2 separate regions of the Homo sapiens genome follow, and region 2 is linked to region 1. The links come from fine-mapping of genetic effects on gene expression. A gene starts in region 1. The other region holds a variant in brackets. All regions are shown on one strand. Distances are from middle to middle.

The links. PIP is the estimated chance that this variant, and not a neighbour inherited with it, causes the effect.
Region 2: its variant is the best candidate, but not a certain one, in a credible set for the expression of XPNPEP2 in fibroblasts (GTEx, PIP 0.74).

What each region holds. Positions count from the first base shown.
Region 1 is chrX:129,735,387-129,743,710 of GRCh38, forward strand. XPNPEP2 (X-prolyl aminopeptidase 2) reads left to right here and starts at 3,593. Exons shown (of 21, transcript NM_003399.6): 1 at 3,593-3,876; 2 at 6,722-6,795. The coding sequence starts at 3,828. RefSeq lists an enhancer at 2,823-2,872.
Region 2 is chrX:129,755,935-129,764,258 of GRCh38, forward strand. XPNPEP2 (X-prolyl aminopeptidase 2) reads left to right here. Exons shown (of 21, transcript NM_003399.6): 14 at 550-621; 15 at 3,246-3,306; 16 at 4,578-4,647; 17 at 5,238-5,342; 18 at 6,072-6,131; 19 at 6,760-6,836. Among named protein-coding and RNA genes, the nearest start is that of SASH3, 20 kb to the right of the region's middle. RefSeq lists enhancers at 1-450, 4,044-4,093, 4,114-4,193. The variant T/G (reference allele first, on the strand shown) is at 3,682.

The DNA.
Region 1 (8,324 bases):
ATTGAATTCTGCCCTGAGGGCAGTGGGAGCCATGGAGGATCTTCAGATTGGGGTGACTGTGAGGTCCAAGGGACAGAGCATGGGCTTTTAAGTTCCCCAGACCCAGGTTTGAGTCCCAGCTCTGCCACAGGTCAGCTTGGACCTGGGCAAAGCCACTTTTTTTCTCCAAGCCTGTCTTCTCTTCTGCTTCTGAGAGCCCTGCCTATCTCCCAGCATGAGATGCTGGAACCTGATGGGAGGGTATAACGGGAATTCGGAAGCAGCAATCACATGCTGTGCCCACAAGGCCAAGAGTCCCCAGTCCCTCAGCCTGTGAGGTCACATGAAGAGTTAGATTGGGCATGTGCTAGCTCAAAAGCCTCCTTCCCACCTGCAGAACTGCAGAACCTCAGGTATCATTTCATGATTTCATCCTCAGTAACTTGGGACATCCCCAGGGGATGCTCTGCAGTGCTCATAGCCCCCTTGGGTCTCTGACTTTCCTATTGCCACCGGCTATTCCAGTCCATGGCGCTGTCCACCTGTGCTTCCTCAGGCTGCTTTTCACATTATTGCCGCCAGTCTGCCCCTAGACTGCTGTCCTTCCCTGTGACCACCTCCTGCAATGCCATCTCTGCACCTCTACTGCCAAGATTCACTCCACCTCTCTGATTCCTGGCCTTCCTCCAGGTTCTACCCTTCCCCGGGGCTCCCACAGCAAAGCTGTTTGTATCCCTGGTGCTAGAGTTCCTTGCTTGCTCGTCACTTTATATGCATTTTCTCATTCACACTCATGACATTAGTTGTTATTGTGACCTCAGCTGCGATTCAGGACACCTAGTGGTTGTCACCTGGTGGGAGAACATGTAAGTCAGGAAGGTGTATTCTGATGGAAGTCAAGGAGGCATTGGTGCCCAGAGAGGGCAGGCTCAGGTTGGAAGCCTGGGGTGGCATGAGGGTGCAAAATAAGAGGCACAGACAGGAGGTACTCTAGAGAAGATCACCTCTGATTTCAGAATTTGGCCTTTAGGCTAGCTTTGGACCAAAAAGTAAAACAAGCAGAAGTCCACTGCCTGAGTAGGCCAGAGCGAGACTCCAGTGATGCATGCATCTTCCAAACAACTTTGATGCAAAGACTCGGCCATTCAACCCTCCCCACGTTGAATCATTTCTTTCCACTTCAAGCCTGTTGCCAACTTGGGTTGAAGTCTCTCAACTGATAAGAGTAAAGACAGTGGTTTCGAGATAGGGAGATAAGGAAGGAGCTGATGAAGGCAAGTGAAGTTATCTTTGCCACCAGGGCTAAGGCTGGGACCCAGAGGTATGAAACCAGAGGGCTGAGTATTATGTGGGGACCATCCCTGGGCAGAGTCCGGAAGATGGGGGTGGAATCCCCGTTTAGTTTGTTTGCTTCGGGGGTTGGCCCTTCAGCTCAGCTGATCTTTGCTCTAACAACTGCTATTTCAGCAGTGCTGGATGCCAGGGAGAGAAAGAACAAAGTACAGATGAGACTGGCTTTATTTAGTTCTAGTATGTGAATTAACAAACATTTGTAGAACATTTACTCTTGTCTCTGCGAGGCATGTTCTGAGAGCATCACCAACATTAGCCCATTGAATCCTCATAACAACCCTAAGAAGCTAGTACTATTATTATGCCAACTCACAGGTGAGGACACTGGGGACTCAGGGAGATAAAGTCACTTGCCCAAGATCACACAGCTAGTGGGTGCCAGAGCTGGGATTGAAACTCAGGCTGATTGGCTCCCAAGTCAGTGTTTCAAGGCTCAGTTCACTGACAGAAAGACAGGACCATGTTTGTCCTCAAAGGCTATCTTCAGGGGTCTTCCCCTGCAAAATCCCATCAGCTCTACCTGCTTGCTTGCCCTTCAGGATGGCTACTGCAGCAAACAGAGGAGGCAGGAGTCTTTGAGGGGGCATTTTCCAGTGCTCTGGTCTCTGGGAATAATTTCATTACCAGTCCTGGAAGGGGTGGGAGAGAGGAGCCTGGGGAAAAGGCTGCGGGAGCTTCAGCAGTTATTGAATGACAGCATTCTCATGTTCTCCTTGTCCCTGGTCTGTCCTCTGAGGCTGTGGGCTCCTGCCCTCTGCTTTTATTCCTGAGAATGAAGTTCACTGGGCCACCTCACTCATTTTGACTCTGCCCCTTCAGAGACTCCCATGAAGGTCCGTTTTCCCTCTTCAAAATGGCCTATTTTGTCATTCTTGAATGGATGGTTGAAAGTTGCTTTACACTTGATGTGGACATAAGCAGACTGTAAATCCATTAAAAATAGAAACAAAAGGAATGGTGGCCAGGCATGGTGACACGCACCTGTGGTCTCAGCTACTCAGAAGGCTGAGGCTGGAGAATCACTTGAGCCCGGGAGGCTGAGGTTGCAGTGAACCGAGAACATGCCACTGCACTCCACCCTGGGCAACAGAATAAGACCCTGTTTCAAAAATAAAAATAGAAACAAAAGGAATGGGCAGTTTGCCTCTGGGGCCCTCCAGGCTAGGTGAGCATCCATCCCCATTGGGTCTGTTTGTCTCTCTAAAGCATTCCTCTCTGGGAAATCACCTTCCTCGAACCCAAAGAGCAAGGGTTCTGTAGAGCATTTACTAGGAGCTGCCTTGAAGCTGCCCTCTGATTCAGCTGGGCGTGAAGACAAGGCAGGCCTCAGCTTCTCCATTTCCCTCATTGGGAGTTGTGTTGTTTACGAGTGACTCACACTTCAGGGTAACCAAATCCCTGTTCTAGAAGCTACAGCAGAAACAGCATTTCCAGTTCACCAAATTAGTCTTCTCAGAGCGCCCAAACTCCCCTTTCTGTGTCTTCTTCCCTATTCAGTGGCATCCCCCAAACCCTCCAGATAGGGGCATCTTTGGGCTTTCATTTCCTCCCAGGTGTGAGTGGCTCTAACAGCCTCGGTTCCCCAGAGTGCAGGTTCAGAAAATGCAGGGGAATGGGACTCCCCAGATCCCAAGGGAAGAGCTGGCATCACTTCTTCAGAGTGGGCACTCCTGGGGGGACTCATCCCAGCTCAAGAAAGTAACTCTCCAGTCACAACCAACTTTCCCAAGGGGTACAGTGGGACTTGCCAAGCACTACAAGAAGAGAGGACACTGGCTTTTCCAGTCAGCTTGGAGGAAGAGAGGGAGGAAAAAAGGAGGGGGAGGAAGAGCAAAAAGGAGGAGGAGGAGGAAATGGACAAGGAGGAAAAAAAAAAAAAGGAGGAGGATGAGGAGGGAAAAGGAGGAAGAAGAAGAGGAAGTGGAGGAGCCCAGAAAAGGAGGGGAAGGAGGAAAAAGGAGGAGGAGAAGGAAAACGAGGAGGAAGAAGAGGTGGGGAGGAAAAGGAGCAGCAGCAGGAGGCAAATCTCCATCCCCACAGCAAAAGCAGTGCTGGAGCCAGAGCCCAGAGTGTGGGAGCTAATGGGAATCAGCTTGCTGGAGGGAAGGGGACCGAATTAAGGAATGGCTGGGGCTCTGCCGCTGAGAGGGGGCTGGGAAAAGCAGGCTGATTGAGACCAGCTGTTGTGCCTCTGTCTCTGAGATCTTTGGACTCTGCCCAGGATAGCCTCACACCCTATCCTACACGACTAGGAACTTGCACAGTCCGCCTCGGGCAGCCCAAAGCTCCTCTGCCCACCCTGGCTCCCAGAGCCCTCCAAAACAAAAGACCAGAGAAGCACTCTCCACCCAGCAGCCAGACGCCTCCTTCTTGACGCCAGCCCCCACCCTCTGTCTGCTCGAGCCCAGGAAAGGCCTGAAGGAAGAGGCCGGGGAAAGAGCCCTCCCTCTCTCCCTTGTCCCTCCATCCACCCAGCGCCGGCATCTGGAGACCCTATGGCCCGGGCTCACTGGGGCTGCTGCCCCTGGCTGGTCCTCCTCTGTGGTATGTGCATCCTAGCTTCCACTGGAAGGCAGCTCTGACCTCTCCCCTCTGAGCTCAGAAAGGGTTGGAGTGAGGGTTGGGGCCCGAGTCTCTTTTTCTGTTGCTTCCTCTCTCTGACTTGAGGAAGAGACACCTCAGGGCCAGTGTTGGGGGCCCTCATAACTTGGATCGAGTCTGGTTTGGCACCTTTCCATTCCCCCCGTTATAGAAAAAAAATATTCTGACACTCGTTAAAACGGTAAGGAAAACTTAATTTAAGACTACCGCATTGCAATAGAGGAGAGAAATGGGGCTCAACTCTGATTACAGAAAAGACTTCCAGGGATCTGTAGCCAAGGAGCAGAGTGAGGGGGTCAGTGGATGGAAAAGTATTAAGAGGAGATAGCAAGGGTAGGGGGATTCTTGCTAAACCGACTGAACAGCATTCTTGCTGACGGCAGGCCAGAGTGATCAGATATCAAGGGTGTCTAAACTGACTTAGCAAGATTCTTGCTAAGACTGGGTGATGCAAGCCTGGCAAGGGCAGGACAGACACAGAAGGCCAAGGTCAAGGCCAAGTGGAGAAGAGGCTTTGGGGGAGCCTAACTAAACTTTGGTCAGGAAGAGAGTCTTTCCTCTTTGTCATTCCTGCGGCACCCTCTCTGTCCTCAACTAGGTGCCCAGCCCAGCGCTCCCACCCTAGCCTTCCTTTCTTTGTTGTCTGTCAGCAGGGCCTGATCAGTCACTCAATGTCCAGTTCCTGAGCACCTACCCAGTGCCAGGCCTTGTGCCAGGGACCACAGAGTCATTCAGCTGCAGAGCCTGCTCTTGGGAGCCACAGCCCTGGCCTCAGAGAACAGCATATTCTGGTGTCCAGAGAGACATAAGTTGGCTGTGTCCTCATTCTTATGTTAGCATATCAGTGCCAACATTTTGCCAGGGATCTGTTTCTACAGAAATGGGTGTTTGTTTTCTTAAATGAACAGTATGGGTCGCATCTGATCCTTGAGTTTATGAGACCAAGATAAAATCACACAGGACGTTCATGGTGTTGAACCCCAGCCACCCTCCTTGCATCTGTAGCTCAGCCCACTCGAAAGTGTGGCTGGGCGTGGTGGCTCATGCCTGTAATCCCAGCTCTTTGGGAGGCCATGGCAGGCGGATCACTTGAGGTCAGGAGTTCGAGACCAGCCTGGCCAACATGGTGAAACACTGTCTCTATTAAAATTACAAAAATTAGCCAGGCATGGTGGCGCACGCTTGTAATCCCAGTTCCTCAGGGGGGGCTGAGGCAGGAGAATCGCTTGAACTCAGGAGGCAGAGATTGCAGTGAGCCAAGATTGTGCCACTGCACTCCAGCCTGGGCAAAAGAAGGAGACTCCATCTCAAAAAAAAAAAAAATGCGGGCGCGGGGGGCGTTGGGCGCAGTGGCTCACGCCTGTGATCCCAACACTTTGGGAGGCCGGGGCGGGTGGATCACCTGAGGTCAGGAGTTCGAGACCAGCCTGGCCAATATAGTGAAACCCCCATCTCTACTAAAAATACAAAAATTAGCTGGGTGTGGTGGGTGCATGCCTGTAGTCCCAGCTACTTGGGAGGCTGAGGCAGGAGAATCGCTTGAACCCGGGAGGCGGAGGTTGCAGTGAGCTGAGATCGCCCCACTGCACTCCAGCCTGGGTGACAGAGAGACTCTGTCTCAAAAAAAAAAAAAAGGAGGGGGGGCGGGGGAGTGTAATGTCTCCCCACACTCAGGGCCCCATTACCATCTAGGGAAATCCCTCCCTAAAAGACAGGGGGGTTAGAGGCAAGGACTATCAGAGACCGCTTTGTCTAATTCAAGCCCCTCCTTTCCAGAGGTCCAGAGCCTGGAGAACTTAGTCCAGTGCCTGGCACACAGTAGGCGCTTAGGAGATGGTTGCTCAATGAATATTGGGGGGGGGTCACTCTCGAGTCACTCTAAATTGGGGGCAGAGCCCAAACTAGAAACTAGATCTCCATATATTCTGTCCCTTCTGTGGCATCACCTTTTTCAGGCCCACCTCTCATACTTGGCAGAGTGGGAGGACTGAAAGTGCGCTCACCTCTTTTGTATTAAGATGGCCTGGGTTCAAATCCCTGTTCTACCACTGACTCCTGGTGGCACAAGTTAGACAAGTTACCAAATCTATCTGGGCCTTGACTTCCTCCTCTGCAGAAAGTGAACAATAATTTCCACCTCATAGTGATGTCACAAATATCAAATGAGATACTGTAGATGAATTGCTGCGTTCAGTATCTGGCACATAATAGGGTGTCTTTAAATACTAATTAATCCATCTTTCCCCACCATGGCAGACTAGGATTTCTGTCTAATATATTGAAAATGAGCCTGGAATGATAGGCAAAGATTTGGACTGTAAGAAACAGTGCAAGCAGGCCTTGAATTGAAGTCAACCCAATGTATCATACAATTAGATTTATAAAAGGCTAAAATGAAGGTGGGGTGATTATTTAGCGTGATCTTCTAGAGCATTTCAAAGAAAATTTGATAACAAAAATTTAATTTACACACAACTTTTCTACTTCACTAAACCCTGAAAAGACCCAATTAGATTAGAAGAAAAATTGATTTAATGAGCACTAAAACCCATCCAAAAGTGGCAATCACTTGTCTATGAAACAGATTTCTTTGATTGTGACCCAGGGTGCTATCCAGTTCAGCCTGATTTCCTATGAAATGTGATTATTTTTATCCTCAAGTAGAGCTGGCCAGCTTCGTGCGTTTCAAAGGATGGAGGCCCCGTGGGGCGGGCTGAGAGGATACTCCTTCCCTCTCTAGGAACTAGCTGGTCCCCAAATGACCCTGGATTTTTCTCCCGGCTTCTAGCTTGTGCCTGGGGCCACACAAAGCCAGTGGACCTTGGAGGGCAGGATGTGAGAAACTGTTCCACCAACCCCCCTGTGAGTGCCCCCTGCCCCCCGCGCACGGCCCCCCTGGCCCCACGCACCCCCCCACCCCTGCCCCACGCACCCCTGCACCGCAGCACCCCCGCCCTGCTCTATCATCTTCTCTATCCCTCATTGGGTCAGTTGGTAGCCCCTCCTCCTACCAGGCTTTCTCCTGATTTCCGGACTCTTGGGCCCCTCCCCCCTCCACTCCCTCCCCTCCACATCAGTGCCCTCCCCTCCCTCCCATTCATTCCCCCAGCAGGTTATCTGCTTCCGTCCTGATCTGGGCCTGGGAAACCCCTCTAGGAGGAGGGAGGAGGGCAGGAGGCCCCTAACTGGCCTTTGGCTGAGGCCAGGCAGAGGAAAGAAAAGACAAATTCTAGAGTGACAGCAAAAAGAGAAGCACAGAAGGGAAGAGGGAGGAAGACAGAGGTTAGAAGAGCCAACGGAGGCCGAGCACGGTGGCTGACGCCTGTAATCCCAGCACTTTGGGAGACCGAGCCAGGTGGATCACCTGAGGTCAGGAGTTCGAGACCAGCCTGGGCAACATGGTGAAACCCCGTCTCTACTAAAAATAAAAAAATTAGCCAGGCATGGTGGCGGGTGCCTGTAATCCCCGCTACTCAGGAGGCTAAGGCAGAAGAATTGCTTGAACCCAGGAAGCAGAGGTTGCAGTGAGCCAAGATTGTGCCACTGCACTCCAGTCTGGGCGACAGAGCAAGACTCTGTCTCAAAAACAAAACAAAACAAAACCAAAACCAAAGAAGAGCCAACGGAAGGGCAAGAGAGGGAGGCCTAGGGTGTGCAGACGAGGAAAAGGCCCAGCAGAAGGGGCTTGGGTAGTCAGCTTCCTAGCTGGAGACCAGAGTGATTCTTTCTACAATCAGAGTAGGGCTAAGGGGTAGGCATGCCAGCAGCACTGTAAGCCATGGGAAAAACGCAGTACATCTGCTAGCAATATCAACTTTATGGGACCCCTGGGGCAGGCAGGTGGGTGGGCAAACCACATTACTTTTATATTAAAACAAACATGGATATATCGTGGAGTAGAAAGCAAAACAGCACAAACGGAAACATGCTTTTCGTTTTAAAGCTAAAATGACCTGTAAAGAAATAGAGAACTGGTCTGGAAAGGGTCTTTCTGGGCAATATCTCAAACTGCTGGGGGCATTCATTCACTCTCCTCTGCCATTTGGGACCAGTGGGTGGCAACCTGAAAAAGCCCTGCCAAGGGAAGGTTGCCAGATAAAATACAGGACACCCAGTTACATTTGAATTTTAGATAACAAATAAGAATTTAGTGCAAGTATGCCCCAAATTGTGCATGTTTTAATATAATACTTACATTAAAACATTACACATTGTTTATTTGAAATGCAAACATAACTAGGTGAGTGTCCTGTATTTTTATTTGCTAATCTGGCAACCCTACCCCCAGGTAGCCAAAGAAGGACTGTCTGCATGGCCTGGCCCAATGCCAGAGCTCAGACCCCTGCAGTTCTCACCCACACCCATATCCCAGACTCAGGTCCCATTACTGT
Region 2 (8,324 bases), 21 kb after region 1:
CACTCGGGCTAGAGTGGCAGGGTGGGTGCTCCTCGGCTTTACCACCTCTTGCTCAGCAGCCCCACCCTGGAGGTATCCTCCCTTCCTGTGCTCTGCTTCTTCTCAGGGCCCTCTGCTCTCGGAGGCAGCAGGAAGTTAGAGACAAAGGGCCGGAGGGAGCATCTGGGTAGAGGCCCAGCTCTTTGCCGCTTTACCGCGCATCCTCGTGCAAGCCCCTTGGCCTCCATAGGCCTGCTTCTCCTTATGGAAAAGGAGACAGCTGAGCTGGGGGGTCTCTAGGGCTCTCCCAGCTCTCATATTCTGGGCTTTACCCTCTCTCTCCTCCCTGGGGACCAGGGCCTGGCTCAGCCAGGTGCAGGATTAACAGACGTGTGCTGAGGACAGCAGCAACGGAAGCTGAGTTCTCTTCCAGGGCCCTTTGGGATAGAATGACTTCCTCCAGAGGGACTGGCCTGGAAGCCCAGGCCCCAGAGGTCCTCCCACCAAGGCCTCCCACGTGACCCAGTGCAGGGTTAGGCTGCCCTTCTCAACATTCTCTCCCCTTCTCAGCCCGACCAAGGAGCTGAACCGCAAGCTGTCCTCAGATGAGATGTACCTGCTGGACTCTGGGGGGCAGTACTGGTATGTACCCCGACCTCACCCTAGCCTGGATGTCTCTGCTCAGACCTCCTGAGCCTGCCAAGAGTCAGCCAAAGCTTTCCCTTCCTGGGCCACGGATTCTTCGTCTGAAAAAGGAGAGATCTGGAATGAGCCCCGAACATCCTACCCATTTTCACACATGGGGGTCCCTGCACAGTGGGAAATACACAGAGGCTGGAATAGTGGCAGGACCCAGGCAGCACCTCTGTGGGAATTAGGAAAAGACTCCCTTTGCTTAAGTTGCTGTTTTTTGTGGGTTGTTTGTTTGTTTGTTTCTTGACAGAGTCTCACTCTGTCGCCCAGGTTTGGAGTGCAGTGGCGCGATCTTGGCTCACTGCAACCTCTGCATCCCGGGTTCAAGTGATTCTCCTGCCTCAGCCTCCCAAGTAGCTTGGATTACAGGTGTCCACCACCATGCCCAGCTATATATATATATATATATATATATATACACACACACACACATATATATATACACACACATATATATACACACACATACACACACACACACACACATATATATATATGTATGTATTAGTAGAGATGGAGTTTCACCATGTTGGCCAGGCTGTTCTCAAACTCCTGACCTCAGGTGATCCACCTGCCCCAGCCTCCCAAAGTGCTGGGATTACAGACATGAGCCACCATGCCCAGCCTCAAGTAAAATGTTTTCTAAGTCCACGTATTATTACACAGTCTGAGCAACTATACTCAATGTCCCTGCCTGGCCACACAAACACATATACCCTACTCTCATCCACTAGTGCACACCCTGGACACCCCCGCACCACCAACGTCATGCAGACTCCTCAGCCCCCTCTTCCCCATGGCACTGTTCAGGGTGGAGGTGGGGGCAGATGAGAGAAGCAACCCTTTTGATGGGCTACCTTTGTACAGTGTACAACCTGAATGCTCAGACATGACAGCCGTGCAGAATAGACTAACCTGGCCAGGCGTGGTGGCTCACACCTGTAATCCCAGCACTTTGGGAGGCCGAGGCGGGCAGATCACCTGAGGTCAGGAGCTTGAGACCAGCCTGGGCAACATGGTGAAACCCCATCTCTACTAAAAATACAAAAATTTTCCGGGTGTGGTGGAGCATGCTTCCCAAGGGAAACTGAGGCAGGAGAATCGCTTGAACCCGGGAGGCGGAGGTTGCAGTGAGCCGAGATCGTGACACTGCACTCCAGTCTGAGCAATAAGAGCAAGACTATAAAAGGAAGAAAGAAAGAAAGAAAGAAAGAAAGAAAGAAAGAAAGAAAGAAAGAAAGAAAGAAAGAAAGAGGGAGAGAGAGAAAGAGAGAGAGAGAGAGAGAGAGAAAGAAAGAAAGAAAGAAAGAAAGAAAGAAAGAAAGAAAGAAAGAAAGAAAGAAAGAAAGAAAGAAAAAGAATAGGCTAACCCCATTCCTTCCAAACGTGTGACTGATCATTCACACCAGAGTTGAGCTGAGCTGAGCTGACCTGAAAGATTTTCCCTTCTCATTGAGGAAGGAAGTGTGGGAAGCGTGGGGTGGGACAAAAGAAGGGCCGTACTGAACTGATGGAGGAGCAAGGAGTCCTGTGGAAATGGCGAATGTGCTAACGACAGAGGCTCTTTGCTTGTTCTTAGCACAGCTCTAGGGGATCCAGAGTAGCAGGCGCTCAGCTTAGCAGCCTTTGCTGGTCAGGAGTTCGATGCTGTGTGTACTTGAGATGGCCAATGAGCAAAGGGGAAGTGAATTTGTGGGGGCGTTGCTGGAATGGGGTGTGCTCAGAGTAGGGTGAGGCCGGGGAAATAGTCACCTCACTTCCTCTTCTTTCCTTCTGAAGAAGAAGGTCACCACACCCCATGACCCAAGGAGAAGCCCCAGGGCCCTGGGACCATTTCTCCCCTCTCCCTCACCAAGGCATGATCACAGGGGCCATCTGTGGCAACTGCTGCAGCTGGGAGTTGGGAGTCAGACCTTGGGACTGAGGCTTCACCTAACTGGAACTCAGCAAGTCACTGGGTCAGATCCGTGTTTGCCATGGAGAGGACTGTGTGGAGAGGCAGTGCTTGCTCTAGGCCTGGCTTCACTGAGGTTCAGAGAGGGAAACAGCCGCATGGCCTCAATGGCCTCATCTGTGAACTGGGGATAATGAGGCCTCTTCTACCATTCTTCCCAGGGAGCAGCAAAAGTGTCCTATAAATGGTCGACAACTATCTGAATATGAGAGTGTTATGATAATATAATCTCTCTGGACCTCAGTTTCCCCAGCTGTAAAAAGGGGACATTCCCCTTTCTGCCTCCCAGGAAGCCTGGAAGAAGCCTTGCTTTCATAACCAGCTGGACCCAAGGAAACCCAGACCTACAGAACAGCCAAAATGAGTGGGATGGGGGAGGAGTGTGTAGGGTGGGGAGTCACACTTGTCAGACAACTTAGTAACTTTTAACTTGATAGGTTTGCAGAGGCCTTTCACACATAGGTGCTGAAGAGGGGATTTTGATTATGGTAGCTGTCTTCTTCCTTTCGCCGTCCACCCATCCCATCCCAGCCCTGCCACTTGTGGAAAGCACACAGAAAGCACATGGCCCCAGTCCCTAGCCCCAGGCATTTGGCATGTTGGTTTTCCTTCTCCATAGGGACGGGACCACAGACATCACCAGAACAGTCCACTGGGGCACCCCCTCTGCCTTCCAGAAGGTAAGCATGGGCCCAGATTTCCCCTCACCACCTTCCCCCAAGGGGGCACCCAAGCAGTCAAGATCCCTTCCATTTCAGAGGCTAAAACTGAAGCTCAGAGAGGTTAAGTAGTTTGCCCAAGGTGACACCACTGGTGCCGGAAAACCCAGTGCTCCCTGCTGCTTCCCCGGGGATATTTCAGGCCACTGACAAGGCCTCAGCCCAAGCTGAGCCTCATCCTATTCTGGTAAATCAGTGCACAAATATTTTTTTGTTGTTGCCTGTGTGCCTGGCCCTGTACTCAGCAGAAAGGAGAAAGAAAGGCATCCCAAGTGGAGGAAAACGGCACAAGTGAAGCCTCCGCGGTGGAAAGGAGCCAGAGGTGTTCAGGAAACA[T/G]CGAGGGCTGGCCAGCTGGGGCAGAGGCGAGGGCATTGTCTCTGTGCACCAGAGGGCCCTGGGGGTGGAGCAGCGAGCTGCCGTCATGCTGCATGCAGCAGGCCGACTATGGGGCAGACATTGTGCTGGAAACACAGAGAGGGGAACAAAATGCTGTCCAGGTCTCCAGGAGCTCACAGTTTAGCGGCGGAGTCTGCTGCCTCTGGCTGTCCTGCCCAAAGTGACAAGCCTGTGAACCTGTGTGGTGATGGAGATTGACCACATCGCCTCTGGAAGTGACCAGAAGAGGCCACTGTCAGGCCACCTCCCTCCGCTGACAGAGGAAGGCTAAGCTGCCAAGTCAGCAAACCTCAACCCTCATGAAAGGCCTTAAGAAAACTCAGCAGCCGTCACAACCACAGGAATGAGTGTGCTAAACTTCCGTGAAGCATGCACGCTGTTGGCAGCACCTTCTGTACATTAGTCTGCCTGCCTCTCCCAACAACCTTAGGAGCTAGGTCCTGTTATCTTCCCATCGCAGATAAGGAAACTGAGGCACACAGCAGTTAAAGTCGCCTGCCCAAGGTCTCAGAGTGAGTGGCTAAGTCAGGATTCAGCCCAGGGAGTCACAGCCTCGGTTCACCGCCACCAAGTGTCTCCTGCAGATATTGTAATGATCCTCATAGACCAGCCAGAGGGAAGCACGTGATGGAGCCCCAGCTTTGGGAAGGCCCTCCTCAGCCTCTGCTGGCCATCTTCCAGAACCCGGGCAGCCACACATAACGATGAGACTCCCCCCACCCTGCCTACACACACCCAGGCCTGGGCCCTGCACCGTGTATCCATAGGCCAAGCAGCTGGATACTCCTCTGGCTCCTCCTCCCGTCCTCCATATCACCTCTTCCTCTCCCCATCAGGAGGCATACACCCGTGTGCTGATAGGAAATATTGACCTGTCCAGGCTCATCTTTCCCGCTGCTACATCAGGTGGGTTTCAGAAACCAGTCTGGACACAGCCTCAGGCCCTGATTTCACAGGACTCAGACCATCACCCTGGGAGGCTGGTGGGGCAAGGATTTTGTCATCATCCCATCCCTTATGTAGATGAGAAAATCCAGCCTAGAGAGAGAAAGTGACTTGCCCAAGGTCACACAGAAGGTTAGCGGGAGATCCAGGCCTTGAACCTGAGTTTCCTGCCTCTTAATCTAACACTGTTGCTCAGAGGTGGGAGAGATCAGTGGGCCACAGCAATTATGGGAGGATTCTTAGAGGAATTAGGTGTCAAAGTGCAAAGCCCTGACAGATGGGGAGAAATTACAGTAGAGGCATCAATTCAGGTAATGGATACAATGTATGGTAAGCTGGAGATAGTGATGGGCTGGTCTGGCGAGGGAACCACTAACTCCATCCATCAGCCCTCCTCCATCCCAACCCAACATCATTGCATCAGTGCATGCTTAGCGGCCTCTCAGGGGCCCCTCTTCTTAGGCACCACTCTGATAGTGAAGCAAGAAGGGGCAAGGTGGACAGTCTTCGGTAAAGCCATCTGACTGGGGTCAATCTCTCTTCCCTTCCAGGGCGAATGGTGGAGGCCTTTGCCCGCAGAGCCTTGTGGGATGCTGGTCTCAATTATGGTCATGGGACAGGCCACGGCATTGGCAACTTCCTGTGTGTGCATGAGTGTAGGTGTCTCCTCAGCACTCCCCAGGCCACCCCCCTTTTATTATACCCTCTATGAAGGTAGAGAATTTCACAGGTATGGAAATGACAAAGACCCACAAAGATGCCATGATCTACCCAAGGTTACCCAGCTCCACAGGGTAAGTGAGGAATGCCAGCAGCAGGCCAGTCCTGCTGGCTGCTTGGCATTCAAGAGGGCACCAGAAAGAGGGTCAAGCCCTAGTGACTAACTTATATAGACCCCAGAGAAATAAAAGCCAGAGCCAGCTGCATGTGGTGACTCACACCCATAGTCCCACTGCTTTGGGAGGCCAAGGTGGGAGGATCACTTGAGGCCAGGAGTTTGAGATCAGCCTGGGAAACACAGCAAGACCCCGTCTCTACAAAAGAAATGTTTTAAGTATCCAGGTATGGTGGCATGTGCCTGTAGTCCTGGCTACTCGGGAGGCTGAGGTGGGAGGATCCCAGGAGGTCAAGGCTGCAGTGAGCCATGATGGCGCCACTGCACTCCAGCCTGGGCAACACAGCAAGACCCCTCTCAATACCTAAATAAATAATAAAAGCCAGAGCCAATCTGGTGTGTGCCAGGCCCAGGCAGACAATGATGTGATGGACCTGTGCTCATAGAGATGCTCTGGGATCCTCACTTATCTGCTCTTCCTCGGAAGCTGCTCACTTCCAAGCTGGTGAGTATAGGAGAACTGATACCATGTTTATGTCTTCCTTTCTAGGGCCAGTGGGATTCCAGTCCAACAACATCGCTATGGCCAAGGGCATGTTCACTTCCATTGGTATGGCCCTCAGGCCCCTCTACCTCACCACCCCATCCCAGAGCAGGACTAGCCCAGGACTGCAGTCTAGAGTGTACCAGACTTCAGAGGAGCACAGCAGGCACTAGTACAGCTCGGGACTCACCTCCCCATTCCCACCGCTACGCCCAGCCCCAAATGGCTTGTCCCACCCTAATTCCAGCTCCCCTCAGCCCAGACCCTCTTTTTGCTCTTGGGAGTTGTTTCCCAGCTGTATATTCAGACGAGATCAGGTGCGTTCAGGGTGGTATGGCCGTAGACCCAGCTGTATATTCAGACTCTGGAGTTGCCAAATGCTGGAGTAACAGGACAGTGGCATCCAGGGAGATGGGAGTACCTTCAGGACCCAAGTGGGTTTTTAGGGCTTCCCTGCTGGGCTACAGGGAAGAGAGAGTGAGTCAGAGATGCCCCTGTGGGGGATCTGAGGCCTGACAGGGATGAGTTGCCTCTGCTTAGCCAACAAACATCTAACCAGTTGTGGGGCTGCCAGAGTCAACAGCCAGGGGACAGCCAGACAGCCAGTCCCTCCAGCCACTCATCAGTAGGTACAGGAAGCCTGGGCTTGGGCCCTCTCCCAGCTTAATGCCACCAGCATCTCTGTGTCTCCCAGAACCTGGTTACTATAAGGATGGAGAATTTGGGATCCGTCTCGAAGATGTGGCTCTCGTGGTAGAAGCAAAGACCAAGGTAAACTGCCACCAGGATGGGCTGGAGGTGTGGGCAGCATGTCAGTGACTTTGGGCTGCATGGGAGGAAAGTGGGGAGGAAGATCAAAGGAGAAGGGCATTTAGTGTGCAGGCATGAATTTATCTGGAGTCTTCCTTAGGAATTCCATAAGTCAGACTTTTCAAACTCGCTTGCACATTTGAATCACCCAGAGAGCTTTCTGGTGCTTTAAATGCCCATGCCCAGGCCCCATTCCAGACCAAGTGAATCAGTATCCCTGCCCTATATCATTGGTTCTCAATGCACATAATAATCGCCAGGGGAGCTTGTTAGAAATAAAGATTCTGTATAATAGCAGCCAACAAGATAAAATACCTAGATGTAAACTTAAAAAGGCTTACATGGAGAAACTCTCTACTAAGGGACATAAAAAAGATTTAAGTAAATGGTGCTCTCTGGAGAGAAGCCTCAATATTATGAAGATATCATTACTCTCTAAATTAATCTATAAATTCAAGATAACCTCAATTCCAGTGCTAACTGGATACTTTTGTAACTTCACAAAATGATAGTAAAGTTTATTTGTAAAAATAAACATGCGAAGATAGCTAGGAAAATTCTGAAAAAGAAGAGCAGGGCCAGGTGCAGTGCCTCATGCCTGTAATCCCAGCACTCTGGGAGGCCAAGGCAGGAGGATCGCTTGAGCTCAGGAGTTTGAGAGCAGCCTGGGCAACATGGCAAGACCCCATCTCAACAAAAAATACAAAAAAAAATTAGCTGCACATGGTGTCATGCACCTGCAGTCCCAGCTACTCGGGAGGCTGAAGTGGGAGGATGGTCTAAGCCTAGGGAGGTTGAGGCTGCAGTGAGCTGTGACCACGCCACTGCACTCTAGCCTCGGTAACAGAGCAAAACCCAATCTAAAAAAAAAGCAATAAGAAAAGCCAGTCCTCTCAAATTTGAACACAAACTACCATAACTAAAACAGTATGACACTGGAGATGAAATAGATAGCTGTAACAATGAAACAGAACAATCAGTCCAGAAGTAAACCCTCTTATTCCCATAAACAACATGGGAATTTAGTTTACAAGAAAGCTGATTTTGCAAAAAAGTAAGAAAAAAATGATTATTCAGCAAATGGACAGGGGGAACAAATGGCTAATCATTTGGGGGGATTAAACTGAATAACCTCCAAAATAAAATTCCAGATGGACCAAAGTTTTAAGGTGAGCAATGAGACCACAAAAGATGTAGAGGAAAACCTATATCAATTCATTTATAATCTCAGGGTGGAAAAGAGTCTTTCTGTGCAAGACCAGAAGCCATGAAGGAAAAGATTAATAACTCTGACTAAATAGAAAATGGAAACAATGTTTATGGAAACAATGCCATAAACAAAGCCAAGAGATGTGTGACAAATATCTCTTGGCTTTGTTTATGGCATTGTGAGAGGGTGAGTTTTCTTATTTTACCATGAGCTTTTTACAAATCCGTAAGACAAAAATA